Linked DNA regions of Homo sapiens: regions 1, 3 and 4 are each reported to be linked to region 2. Evidence: microRNA targets listed by miRTarBase, many of them from high-throughput screens and not tested one by one. Region 2 holds a microRNA gene; each other region holds the end of a gene's coding sequence.

The links. Region 2 holds the annotated microRNA hsa-miR-181a-5p (AACAUUCAACGCUGUCGGUGAGU, at 1,433-1,455, opposite strand). A microRNA usually pairs through its seed, bases 2 to 8, with sites in the 3' UTR of a target mRNA and lowers its output. Matches are read on the target gene's strand: a 7mer-m8 pairs with bases 2 to 8, a 7mer-A1 pairs with bases 2 to 7 and ends in A, and an 8mer does both.
Region 1: miRTarBase lists ADAM17 as a target of hsa-miR-181a-5p. Seed matches in the 3' UTR shown: 7mer-m8 at 1,264-1,270 and 7mer-A1 at 1,778-1,784.
Region 3: the mRNA of ZNF266 is a reported target of hsa-miR-181a-5p. Seed matches in the 3' UTR shown: 8mer at 2,518-2,525 and 8mer at 2,359-2,366.
Region 4: miRTarBase lists EPS8 as a target of hsa-miR-181a-5p. Seed matches in the 3' UTR shown: 7mer-m8 at 2,115-2,121.

Annotation. Positions count from the first base shown.
Region 1 is chr2:9,487,230-9,490,404 of GRCh38, reverse strand. ADAM17 (ADAM metallopeptidase domain 17) reads left to right here. Exons shown (of 19, transcript NM_003183.6): 19 at 1-1,919. The coding sequence ends at 228. IAH1 (isoamyl acetate hydrolyzing esterase 1 (putative)) reads right to left here. Exons shown (of 6, transcript NM_001039613.3): 6 at 663-2,258. The coding sequence ends at 2,076. Among named protein-coding and RNA genes, the nearest start is that of IAH1, 14 kb to the right of the region's middle.
Region 2 is chr1:198,857,676-198,860,850 of GRCh38, forward strand. MIR181A1 (microRNA 181a-1) reads right to left here and starts at 1,478; the gene lies at 1,369-1,478. The region is part of intron 2 of MIR181A1HG (MIR181A1 host gene); the gene reads right to left. MIR181B1 (microRNA 181b-1) reads right to left here and starts at 1,307; the gene lies at 1,198-1,307.
Region 3 is chr19:9,410,679-9,413,827 of GRCh38, forward strand. It overlaps ZNF266 (zinc finger protein 266), which reads right to left. Exons shown (of 11, transcript NM_001370374.1): 11 at 1,751-3,149. The coding sequence ends at 2,597. Among named protein-coding and RNA genes, the nearest start is that of ZNF266, 23 kb to the right of the region's middle.
Region 4 is chr12:15,618,394-15,621,568 of GRCh38, forward strand. EPS8 (EGFR pathway substrate 8, signaling adaptor) reads right to left here. Exons shown (of 21, transcript NM_004447.6): 21 at 1,741-3,037. The coding sequence ends at 2,924. Among named protein-coding and RNA genes, the nearest start is that of EPS8, 170 kb to the right of the region's middle.

The DNA of each region.
Region 1 (3,175 bases), not on the chromosome of region 2:
GCAGCTCCAAAACTGGACCACCAGAGAATGGACACCATCCAGGAAGACCCCAGCACAGACTCACATATGGACGAGGATGGGTTTGAGAAGGACCCCTTCCCAAATAGCAGCACAGCTGCCAAGTCATTTGAGGATCTCACGGACCATCCGGTCACCAGAAGTGAAAAGGCTGCCTCCTTTAAACTGCAGCGTCAGAATCGTGTTGACAGCAAAGAAACAGAGTGCTAATTTAGTTCTCAGCTCTTCTGACTTAAGTGTGCAAAATATTTTTATAGATTTGACCTACAAATCAATCACAGCTTGTATTTTGTGAAGACTGGGAAGTGACTTAGCAGATGCTGGTCATGTGTTTGAACTTCCTGCAGGTAAACAGTTCTTGTGTGGTTTGGCCCTTCTCCTTTTGAAAAGGTAAGGTGAAGGTGAATCTAGCTTATTTTGAGGCTTTCAGGTTTTAGTTTTTAAAATATCTTTTGACCTGTGGTGCAAAAGCAGAAAATACAGCTGGATTGGGTTATGAATATTTACGTTTTTGTAAATTAATCTTTTATATTGATAACAGCACTGACTAGGGAAATGATCAGTTTTTTTTTATACACTGTAATGAACCGCTGAATATGAGGCATTTGGCATTTATTTGTGATGACAACTGGAATAGTTTTTTTTTTTTTTTTTTTTTTTTGCCTTCAACTAAAAACAAAGGAGATAAATCTAGTATACATTGTCTCTAAATTGTGGGTCTATTTCTAGTTATTACCCAGAGTTTTTATGTAGCAGGGAAAATATATATCTAAATTTAGAAATCATTTGGGTTAATATGGCTCTTCATAATTCTAAGACTAATGCTCTCTAGAAACCTAACCACCTACCTTACAGTGAGGGCTATACATGGTAGCCAGTTGAATTTATGGAATCTACCAACTGTTTAGGGCCCTGATTTGCTGGGCAGTTTTTCTGTATTTTATAAGTATCTTCATGTATCCCTGTTACTGATAGGGATACATGCTCTTAGAAAATTCACTATTGGCTGGGAGTGGTGGCTCATGCCTGTAATCCCAGCACTTGGAGAGGCTGAGGTTGCGCCACTACACTCCAGCCTGGGTGACAGAGTGAGACTCTGCCTCAAAAAAAAAAAAAAAAAAAAAAAATTCACTATCTACAAACCTAGAATATTTAAAATACAAAGATTGCCTGTTTTCAAACACTATTGAATAAGAGGGTGAGATATTTCTTAACAACAACAACAACAAAAAAAACAGGTTGTTTTGAATGTGATGAGCCAGCCAGGAGATAGAATACTACCTGCCCTTAGGGTTGGGGGCTGTCCCCACAAGACTTGATACTTCAGAAACCCTTTTTATTGACCCACAAGCAGATATTTGAATTACTTCTTACTTTATTGCTCCAGGATTCTGGATGGGCTGCATTTACTGTGTGAAGGATAAAAATCATTAGCCTGGATTCTGATTTCTATAAATTGCCATTAAAAGCTTTTTTTCCCCTAAGAACTGAAATGTGCTCACCAGCCAAAACATTTTAACTTGTAAATTTTGAGGGCAGTTAACCAAACCTGTGACTAATCATATCTCCTCCTACCCCCCATTTCCAAGGACATTTGTTACTCAGATACTTGTTATACTAATACTTGAACTTGTACCTTATGGTATTTGCTATCTTTTAACTAGTCATGATATTCTTATACTTTAGTTACACTTTTGGAATTTGATACAAGGTTGAGTGGGGTGTGTGGGTGTATGTATGAGTGAAACAGTTCTCAAAAGAATGTAAGAAAAACCATTTTTATAAAATTGTGACTTTTTAAAAACATAGTCTTTGTCATTTATAGAATTAACAAGCTGCTCAGGGTATATTTTATAGCTGTAGCACTGATATCTGCATTAATAAATACTGTCGAAACACAATGGACCTAAGTATAAAACTTCCCTGAAAAATCATCTAATACTTTTATTATTAATATCAGTGGCAAAGGTTTAAGCCTGAGGAAAAAAGCGTACCTCTACGTATTGACAACTTTGAGTTCTGTAGATAACAAGCAGATTTGGGTCTCCTGTGATTGGCTAATGGTCTCCATCTCCCAGCAGACTTAATTCAGGTTTTGCTTCTGCTACATCCCGCCAGTAAGGAAGCAGCAAAGGTAGAGAAGAGACCTTTTTCTCTATCAAAGGCCAGAGATGCGAGAACAAAAATTCATTCCCCTTTGGAGACAAATGTAGTCCATCTGATAAATAAGATGAGAAGTCCTAGAAGGGAGAGAAATCGGTTAAAGGTGGGTAACTGGCCACGTGTGGTAGCTCACCCCTGTCATTCCAACACTTTGGGGCCGAGGATTACTGGAAGACAGGAGTTTGAGACCCTGTCTCTACAAAAAATTTTAAAAATACAAAAATTAGCTGGGTGTGGTGGCAAACACCTGTATTCCCACCTACTTGGGAGGCGAAGATGGGAGGATCACTTAAGCCCAGGAGTTGGAGGCTACAGTGAGGTATCATTGCACCACTGAGTTCCAGCCTGGGTGATAGACTGTCTCCCCCCACAGCGCGCGCGCGCGCGCGCACACACACACACACACACACACACACACACACACACACACACACAAAAAGGCCGGGGAGGGAGGGTATAACTTTTCTAAATGCCAGTGTGTACCATTCTCTCATTTGTGGCCCTGCGACAGAAATATCACCAGCCCCTTTCATTGTAGGCATCTGACCAGAGGTGTCTTGGACTACAGTAGCACTGATGTGCTATTTACGTAGGTGTTTGAACACACAGAGAACCCTGACTAGTGCTATAGTGCTGTCTCCATATTATAGAATTGAGTTTCATGAAAGTCACTCACCATTAAGTGAGCTGGGACCTCATTCCAGGTCTTCTGAATCATATGACATGATTCTCAGGTTATTTGAAAGAACCTTAACAGGTAAATATGGCCTATTAACGTAATCAGCAAAAATGAAAAATTTGGTATTAGGAGTGTTCAGGGGCCCCATGAGTCAATATTGTTTTTGACTCTAGGCAGGTTTTTAGGCAGAAAGAACTTCTACCATCTAACCTAGAACAGTAATTGCTGGGACACAGGAGTCCAGTCTCCCTCCCATTGCCCTGAACTCAAGAGTACATATTTAAAAAGATACACATATTTTTGGAGACAGGGTCT
Region 2 (3,175 bases):
AGTAGAAGAAATGCTGGGTCAGAGTTGAGGGACTGAGGCACTTGGAGGCCCCTGAGTATGTGTATTAATGTGTCCATATGATGATGTGATTTTATTTTTCAGCAACACTGATATTGAAAGGACAGTTGCCTTGGAGATAAGAGAATGAGAAACTAGAATGGTAAGAAGTGATAGACAGAGTGGGATATTAGATATCGAATGTGGTAAAATATTTTAAGGTTATGATGAGGTCAAGAGCCGGGTCCCAGCAATGGGTTTCTGTAATGGGAGTTAAAGGCAAATGGGATTTAAAAGATCAAGGAAAAGAAAGGATAATTTATTTGACCATTAAAAAAAAATGAACATTGAAGCCATCCAGGTACTCCAAACATAGACACTTGAGAAAGCATTTTATTTTGCTATATAATTATTATCATTACAAATGGTAAACTTAAAACTGCTGTGATCAAATTTAATGACAGATGTCCTATATAAAAATGCAGAGGCAAACCACTTAAGAAAAACCATGATATGCATAGGCTTTTACTTGCAAAGTCAGATGAGTAAACATGAGGCAATTAATGGGCCATGACTGTAAGTCTAACCACGCAGTTCATGCACATAGAAAGTGGGTAAAGTTTTAAAGTGGAAATTGAATTGGGAAAATCAATCTACTATATGACTGTCATGAGTGTTCTGATAGTTATATAGTTATGTATATATTATTTTCTTCGTATTTAGCATGTTACATAGCAAGAGGCAGAATTATATGAGCAAATCCTCACCCAGAGAAGCAGAAAGCTAAAATTATCTGGTGTTTCTATCCCACTTTGACCAGAACATCTAACAAAAGTTGTAAAGAACACATATTTGTAAGTGTGTTATTGTCAATGGCATGGGTGCTGAGGTCCTACTTTATGTCTTTTTTTCACTCACACTACAACAGTAGGAAGGTGAGCTAACCTAGATGATGATACTGTACGTTTGATGGACAAAATAGTTTTGCCTTTTCTAAAACATGCTCTGTTTATAGCATACAAAAGATAGAGAAGCATTATTCTTGTTTAAACCAGAGTCTTTTTCATTGAAATCTCATCACATGATATAAATTGAATAAATAAACCAGAAGATGCTGACGAATTGGAAAACTTAAAGAACAATAGTACTATTTTGAACACATCTTTCAAAGATGGAATATCTGTTGATTGTGACAGCAAAAAGCGGGGCCACAGTTGCATTCATTGTTCAGTGAGCTTGTCCACACAGTTCAACCCACCGACAGCAATGAATGTTGATTGTGACCTTTTAAAAAATAATCTCTGCACAGGGAAGAGAAAGTCCTGGTGTGTCCACCTTTGGTTTCCTGTCTTCAGCGAATTCTGAGCACCATGGAGTAGATGATGGTTAGCCATAGGGTACAATCAACGGTCGATGGTTTTGATTTTAATTCCAAACTCACCGACAGCGTTGAATGTTCACTGAAGCAACCTCAAAACTCAGAATTCTACTCACTTTACAGTATCTGTAAGTATCTGAAGGGGATGGGAGACAGAAACAACAGTACCTTTAGTCATATATTTTATGCATTTTTATGCCATTTCAAAAGACTACAAAAGAAGACAAATAAGAAGCATGATTCTTCCAACAAAGAGTTTGGCAAACCTCCACATCACATTGTATGAGAGAAAAGGATCGGTTTCATTAAGCAAAAACATGGCCGATATTGGGCTAGTTCCAGAGATGGAATTATCTCACTGTTAAAGACAGGGACAATTTGTTATTCAAAGTACTTTGTGGTATAAAATCCAAACAATATCTTATAATTTAAATATTGTTACGCTTATAGTAAGCAAGCATTATGTATATAGCTTATACAGAAATTAAACAGAATTACCTTAGATTTCCTCAAATTGGCATTGATGATATCATTTATATTTACATTATATATTTACTATATTTTATTCTAAAATAAGGTTTTAAAATTAGTATAACTTCCTAAGAACAATCTTATTTAGAAAATGCTGAACAAATTATAAGTGAAGAAACCAGCTCAATACATTTTTCTTAGTTTATGGCACAAAGAGTTCATGAATACAGTGAAAGGTAAATACAATCTATGTATGCTACAAAACCGTTCATTTCCTATTATTTTAAATAACATCTAACATCTAACATCTCTTTATGGGTAGATGGGTGAGGGATTCTTTTCATAGTCTTATTTTCTAAGACTGTTTTATCATTAATGCTTATTTTAAAATTATTATGAACTCTACTGAATTTATTTTTAGAGCCATTTTCAATAATTTTCTACCATCAATTAAAACAAAAGTCACCTTGGATGTATCTAAACCAGAATAGAAAGTCATTATTTCACACATTTAAGTTGCATCTAATATGGTTATAGAGTAATTATCTGTAGGAGGGACAACCCACAATAATTTGGAATGCTACTTTGAAGGTGATAATGGTCTATTCAAGTCAAGGCAATTACTCTCGAAATGTTAGTGAAATATGTATCCCAAATTTTTACACATTCTTACATTTCAGTCACTTAGAATTATTTTAAAGCCAATAATTGTTTAACCTTTTAGACAAACTATTTACATGAAAACTTCAACAGATTTTTTTTGAGAGAAACAGGGACTAGAGATCAACTGGAAGTAAATTTTAAAGTGACAAATAGGCACAGAATATGAAACAGTGATGTATCTGAATTTTGCATTGTTTAATTCTTTTGAAAGAAGCAAATTTCTCCCACAGAATAAAACCCTAGAAGAATGCTTTATCAGTAGGCATTTCTGTGTTGCTGCTGGAAAGAATATTATCATGAGACTGAGGATTCATTTGTTTGCATTATCAATTACGACTGAAAGCATATCACTCCTGTTCTGTTGCCTGCCTATTGTGGTATTAGTGTCAGGTCAATATACAACTGTTTTCAATCATGCCTATTCATCTCTTGCTACATCTGCTAACGTTTGTATAATAGGGATGTTGTGATAAAAGACTCCATGCTCTGTATTTTCCCTTAACACAAAATGCATTTGGCCTACCAGTAAGCAAAGCTCTAGGTCAGTTACAAATAATTAAAAGGCATAACTATGTTATCTTTTGTTTTCCAAAATATTCTCCTAGAAGTCTTTGGAAGAATACAATTAACTTAATCCTAAAGTTGTTACATTCTTAGAATAAAAAT
Region 3 (3,149 bases), not on the chromosome of region 2:
CCCCACCCTCTTCTACTCTGTTAGTGGAGCCTGCGGTTTTTATGGGCACAGGATGAGGGCGGGGCAGGCCATGAGTGGTTTTGAAAAAGGCAACATTTGAACTGGAAAAGAAGGATGTGAAGTTATCACTTTGGGCCAATCTGAAAAGTTACGTACTGCACAATTCCAACTCTATGACATTCTGAAAAAGGCGAAACTATGGAGACAGTAAAAAGATGAGTGGTTGTCGGGCTGGGGAGAGGGAGGGAGGAATAGTGGGAGGACCGATGATCTGTGGACTTTGGGTGATAATGAAGTGGCAATGCAGGTTCATGAATTCTAACAAATGTATTACTCTGGTGGAGTATGTTGATGATGGTGGAAGCTATGCATATGTAGTGGCCGCAGGAATATAGGATGTCTTTGAACCTTCCACACTATTTTGCTGTGAACCTAAAACTGCTCTGAAACATGGATTTTTTGTTTTGAGACAGCGTCTGACTCTGTCACCCAGGCTAGAGTGCAGTGGCACAATCTCAGCTCACTGCAACCTCCTTCTGGGCTAAAATGATTCTCCTGCCTCAGCCTCCTGGGTAGCAGGGACTATAGGCATAAGCCACCATGCCCAGCTAAGTTTTGTCTTTTTTGTAGAGGCGGGGTTTCACCAGGTTACCCAGGCTGGTCTTGAACTCCTGAGCTCAAGCAATCCACTCACCTCAGCCTCTCAAAGTGCTGAGATTACAGCTCTGAGCCACTGCACCAGGTGAACACGGATATTTTAAAAGAGTAATAAAACATTTTCAATTGGTCAGAGTTTTCCAATCTGAGAAGTCAACATTATTTAGCTGAACTACCACTCTCCAAAACCTCTTACACTAATAGGATTTCTCTCTACTGCAAAACCTTACTTAAGCAATCCCTGAGATAACAGCAAAGGGCTTTCCATGTTTCACAGACTGTGTGGTCTCATTGCAAGTTACTTCCTGCTGGGTTGTGAAGAGATTCTGACAGCTTTCCCATATTTCTTACATTCACATGGCTATGAACTGTGATACAGTAAGATATGAGAAGCAAATGAAGTACTTCCTGCATCCTTTTTATAATCACAGGGTTTTACCCCAGTGTGAATTCTCACAAAGATATTAAGGCTTGAGCAATGAAATAAGGTGACACCATATCCCTGGGATACACAGGTTCTTCCTCCAATGTGAGATTTCATGTTAACATTATGGCATGTGAGATATTTAAAGGTTGCCATACATTCCCCTACATTCCCAGGACATTTGCAGTCTAATTTTATTTTATTTTTTTTGAGACAGAGTCTTGCTTTGTCACCCAGGATGGAGTGTAGGGGTCTTGGCTCACTTGCAGTCTAATTTTAGATATGTAAAATGAGCCTCGTGGAATTAGTAAAAGCTTTCCCACGTGCCTTACAGCAGAAGTGTTCTCTACACTGTGAATTTTTATTTCTCATGTAAGGTATAAACATTTAATGAAATCTCTCCACATTACTAATAATGGAGCCTCAGTCCACTCTAAGTCACTAAATGTTGGGTGAAGTCACATTTATGACTTTCATAGTAAAAGAAACTTTCTCTTCTTGATGGTCTTTGATTTTCACAGGGCCTATCACCACAAGAGTTGGAAGTGAGTATTAAGATCTGATGAGCACTTACAGACTTCTTCACATGTCCTACATTCATAGAACGTCTCTCCTGTGATTGCTTTTGTGTTTACACTAACACTAATGATAGCTAATGAACGGAAAAAATAATCACAAAAAAATTTTATTATGTTTGAAGAAAGCTTAAAAATTTGTGTTGGTCTGCATTCAAAGCCATCCTGGCCTGCGGGTTGGACAAGCTTGATCTAAAGCTTTTCCCAAGTTCCTCACAGTATTAGTTTCCTAGGGTTGCTGTACAAAATAACAGACTGAATGATTTAACCAAGAGAAATTTATTGCCTCACAGTTCTGGAGCCTGGAAGTGCAATATCAAGGTGGAGACAGGGTTGGTTTCCTCTGGAGGCCATAATGAAAGCATCTGTTCCAGGTCTCTGTCCTTGGCTTGTAGATGGCCATCTTCTGGTGGATCCACACAGTCTTCTCCATGTGTATCCTTCCTTCAGTTTCCCTTATAGGGACACCAGTGATGTCAGATTAGGGATCGAACCCAACAACCTCATTTGAAGTTACTCACCTGTTTGAAAACCCTATGTCCAAATACAGTTATAGTGTAAGGAACTAGGACTTAGGGCTTACAAATATGGAGTGGGGCATCATCCAGACCATACCATTTAAATTGCAGGGTTTCTCTCCAATGTGAGTTCACATACACACATTAAGGTTTGTGGGATTCAGAAAGGTATTCCCAGATTCTCTACATTCATACAGTTTCTCTCCAGTGAGATTTCTGATGTGTTTGGTAAGGCTTGAGAATTCAGCAAAGTCATTTCCACATTCCCTGATGCAGGGTCTTCTCCACTGTGAATTCATATGTGTTCATTAAGACCTGAGATACAAAGTTGCTTCCACATTTTTACATTCATAGGGTTTCTCCCCAGTGAGTTTTCATGTCTTCAGAGAGAACAGGGACACCTTTAGGTTTTCCCACATTCCTTATGCTGACAGTCTCTCATCCGCATGCCTTCTTTCATGATTTCGAAAGGAACTGGAAGAACTGAAGGCTTTCCCGCACTCCTTACATTCATAGGGTTTCTCTCCAGTGTGAGTTCGTTCATGTAACTGAAACGAATTGGAGTAACTGAAGGATTTCCCACACTGTTTACATTTGTAGGGTTTTTCTCCAGTGTGGATCCGCATGTGAAGGTTAACACACGTGGGAAACTTAAAAGCTTTGCCACATTCCATACACGTGAATGGTTTTTTGGCGCTGTGGGTCCGCATGTGATTATTAAGACTGGAGGAATGCGTAAATGCTTTACCACATTCCAGGCACTCAAAGGGCTTCTCTCCAGTGTGAATTCTCAAATGTCCACTAAGATTTGAAGAAATAGCAAAGGCTTTCCCACATTTGACACATTCAAAAGGCTTCTCTCCAGTGTGAGTTCTTGTATGTTCACTAAGGCGAGAGGATCTGGCAAAGGCCTTTCCACATTCCTTACATTCATAGGGCCTCTCTCCACTGTGAGTTCGTGCATGCTTAGTAAGG
Region 4 (3,175 bases), not on the chromosome of region 2:
TCTCTTTTTGCCTGTTTAACAATTCTTTACATTAAGTACTCTACATTAAATACTACTAAAATAACAGAGAAAGATGATTGCACCTTGTTAGGTAAAATCATAAGCTTTTTCTATCTTTTAAATTTTTTTAATCAATTTTTTTAGAGATAGGATCTCACTCCATCACCCAGGCTGGTGTTCAGTGGTGCACTCATGGCTCACTGCAACCTTGAACTCCTGGCTCAAGCGACACTTTCACCTTGGACTCCAAAGTAACACAGACTGTGTGTGAATGCCACCACACCTGGCTACTTTTTTTTGTAGAGATGAGGTGTCACTTTGTTGCCCAGGCTGGTCTTGAACTCCTGGGCTCAAGCAATTCTCCCATCTTGGCCTCCCAAAGTACTGGGATTATAGGCATGAGCCACTGCTCCTGGCCCACATTTAAAAAATTATTGTTGTATGAAATTTCAGATATGTACAGAAGAGCAAGTGTAGAGGCTAAGTACTAGAGATTGGAATGGGTTATGAGTTATTCTCTCAGTTTCAAATCCATCCCTTAATTCTCATCTTTGAGATTTGGGGCTTTGTCAGGTGCATGCTCAATAGACTGTGCCGAAAGCATGTGCTACAGGGAGATAGAAGGCTAGAGAGGGAACAAGGGGCTTCTCCCTCCTGTTTTACTTTCTGTTGCTACCAACACAACCCCAGTAGTGGTTCTTCACTCAGTAAGTAGCAAATGATTCCCAGCAGCAGTAGTTGGCTCAATTTACCAGTTTTCTATTCCCTAGGCTCCCAGAGGCATCCTCATTGTGCCCTCTTAGAGATTCAAGCACCAGCTACCTGCCATGCTCTTCTCCAAAGTCTAAGTCCCAGAGCCATGGATTTTCTGACCTGTTGTTCAATTCCTGAAATCTTTTCTGAATACCTGAGGCAAAAACACTGATTAGGCTGTGTCCCCCTGTTAGCTTTGTGGGGTCTTTCCTCAAATCCTCAGATACCAGTGACCAAACCCCTCAGATGTCTGGATCCAAATTCTGTGGTGCTGCTCCCTCAAGATTCTAAATTCCAGGAACCTCTTCTCTTTGTCCCCACATCCTTAGCTGATGTGACTGCTTTCTGCAATTACTACCTCTGTGATACATTCCTTTGGCATCTTATAGCATAAAGATGTAAATTACACCAATTCTTTTCATATCCGTCTGCTATTTTACACGCAGGTTATCTTAACTTTTGGATCTTATTTTCTTTCATCTTATCCCTTTCAATAAAGGCTAAATTATACATATGTATCAGTCCTTATGAAATGTAAAAGATCTAAACTAATTCACCTTTATCATGCTCATGTTTGTTCCACTTTATCCAAAGGGCAGTGTTATAGAGAGACCGAGAGATAGAAGATGAGAAACTCCCACATCCTTCAGGATCTGGGGAAAATTAGCTTCTAGGAAGCTAAATCTCCTCATCTGTAATAATTCATATAGAGTTGTTGTAAATATCCAGGAAAGCATTTATATGGAAGCATTTAGCAATCGTAAGCGCAGTGTAAATTAGTTCCATTACCATTACCAAATATGACTAGATGGTAGAAGGAAAAGATGATGAAACAAGAGGCGAAAAGAAGAAAAACAACCGAAAAAAGTATTCTAGAGTTTCTCTACCCACTCAGAAATAGAATAATATATAGTTTTTTTAAAATGTGGATCTCTACTTTTTCCCATTGCATTCAACTCGAATCCTCAGCCGATCTAGCACAGATCCTTTTTGCTAATGAGACAGAAACCATTTATTAACAGACAGCAAATACTGTTTATTGCAGACTTTCCAGCTGACTCATGTGAAAAAGGCACTATGAAAATTAATGAATCTAGATAATTTCTCTAAATGATTTATGTTAAAATATACAACATTCTTACATAACATCTGTTTTATATATGTGAAATAATATAACATTTAATGACAAAAATTGTGTTTCCAAAAATAACATTTGTTGAAGGTTAGGTATCTTTCTTTTCTCTATGTGGAATCTTTCACAGGATTAAAATATGTGTAAATTAAGTGCTTCTTATTACCAGAAATACTTGACACAGATAAACACATAAAATGGCCCCACTTCCTTTTAACTACTCATATCAACATTCAGAACTGAGGCTTTCATTAAGCAAAATACTGTAATGCACACCAATGCAGACTACTTCCTTTGCTAGATTTTGAGAAGACATGACCTCTTTCGCATTTGTGCTTTCTCATATATAAGAACACAGTATACATAATAAGCAGAATATAAACTAAATCAAAATACAAGCTATACAAGGAGTTGCAATCAACAGAGCCATGACAAACTCTCTTGAGAATGCTCCATAGATTTATATTTGCATGTCCAAGGTATGGCTGTACTTTACAGTTCATTCAAATGTTTTAATTTTTTTTTAAACTGTTGGCATTAAGAACTTTAAATAAATCTAAATATTCTTCCATTGAGTATGTCAGAGAAGAGACTTAAGTAAGCAGAGGCTAGCCTACAGTGAGCTATGCCCTGAATGACAGACACCATATTCACAGGCAAAATCGAAACTGCTTAGATTTTGAATCATGGACAACATTGTTGCTTTGTTGCAGTGAATAACTCCACCACTATCAAAACAATTCCTGTTTATACCCTGGGATGGGGATAAAATAATTAGTCTAATTAAGGAAACTTCACCTTGGTAAAGTAAGAAAAATATTTTCCAAGGTCAAAAAATTCAGTTTAAATTTTTTCAGTTTTAATAAAAATAATGGGCCTAGAAGCAAATCCTGTGCTCACTCAGGTTTGCATGGGTTTTTTTTTATGGTGATAAATTACATCAAGAAAAATGAATCTGACATTCCCTTCAAGGCTTCTTAAAACAAAGCATGTTGGAATAATGCCAAAAACAATGGAGTTTAAATACAAACAAACAAATTAGTGACTGCTTCCTTCATCAAAAGATTCCACTCCTGAATCACTAGCGGCAGCACTGATTTTTTCCTGTCGTCTTCTCATAATTTCTTGTAACTCGGAGCTGCCACTGCTATCCTGAAAGATAAACAGTTCAGACAAGATAGTTACTGACTTGTGCAGGCTGCAGGTCATATCATGAAATGGCTCAGGATAAAATTCTACTGTGGTTTTCTTCTAGTATCTCTTTAGGAAAGCTAACAGCTCTACTTTTTA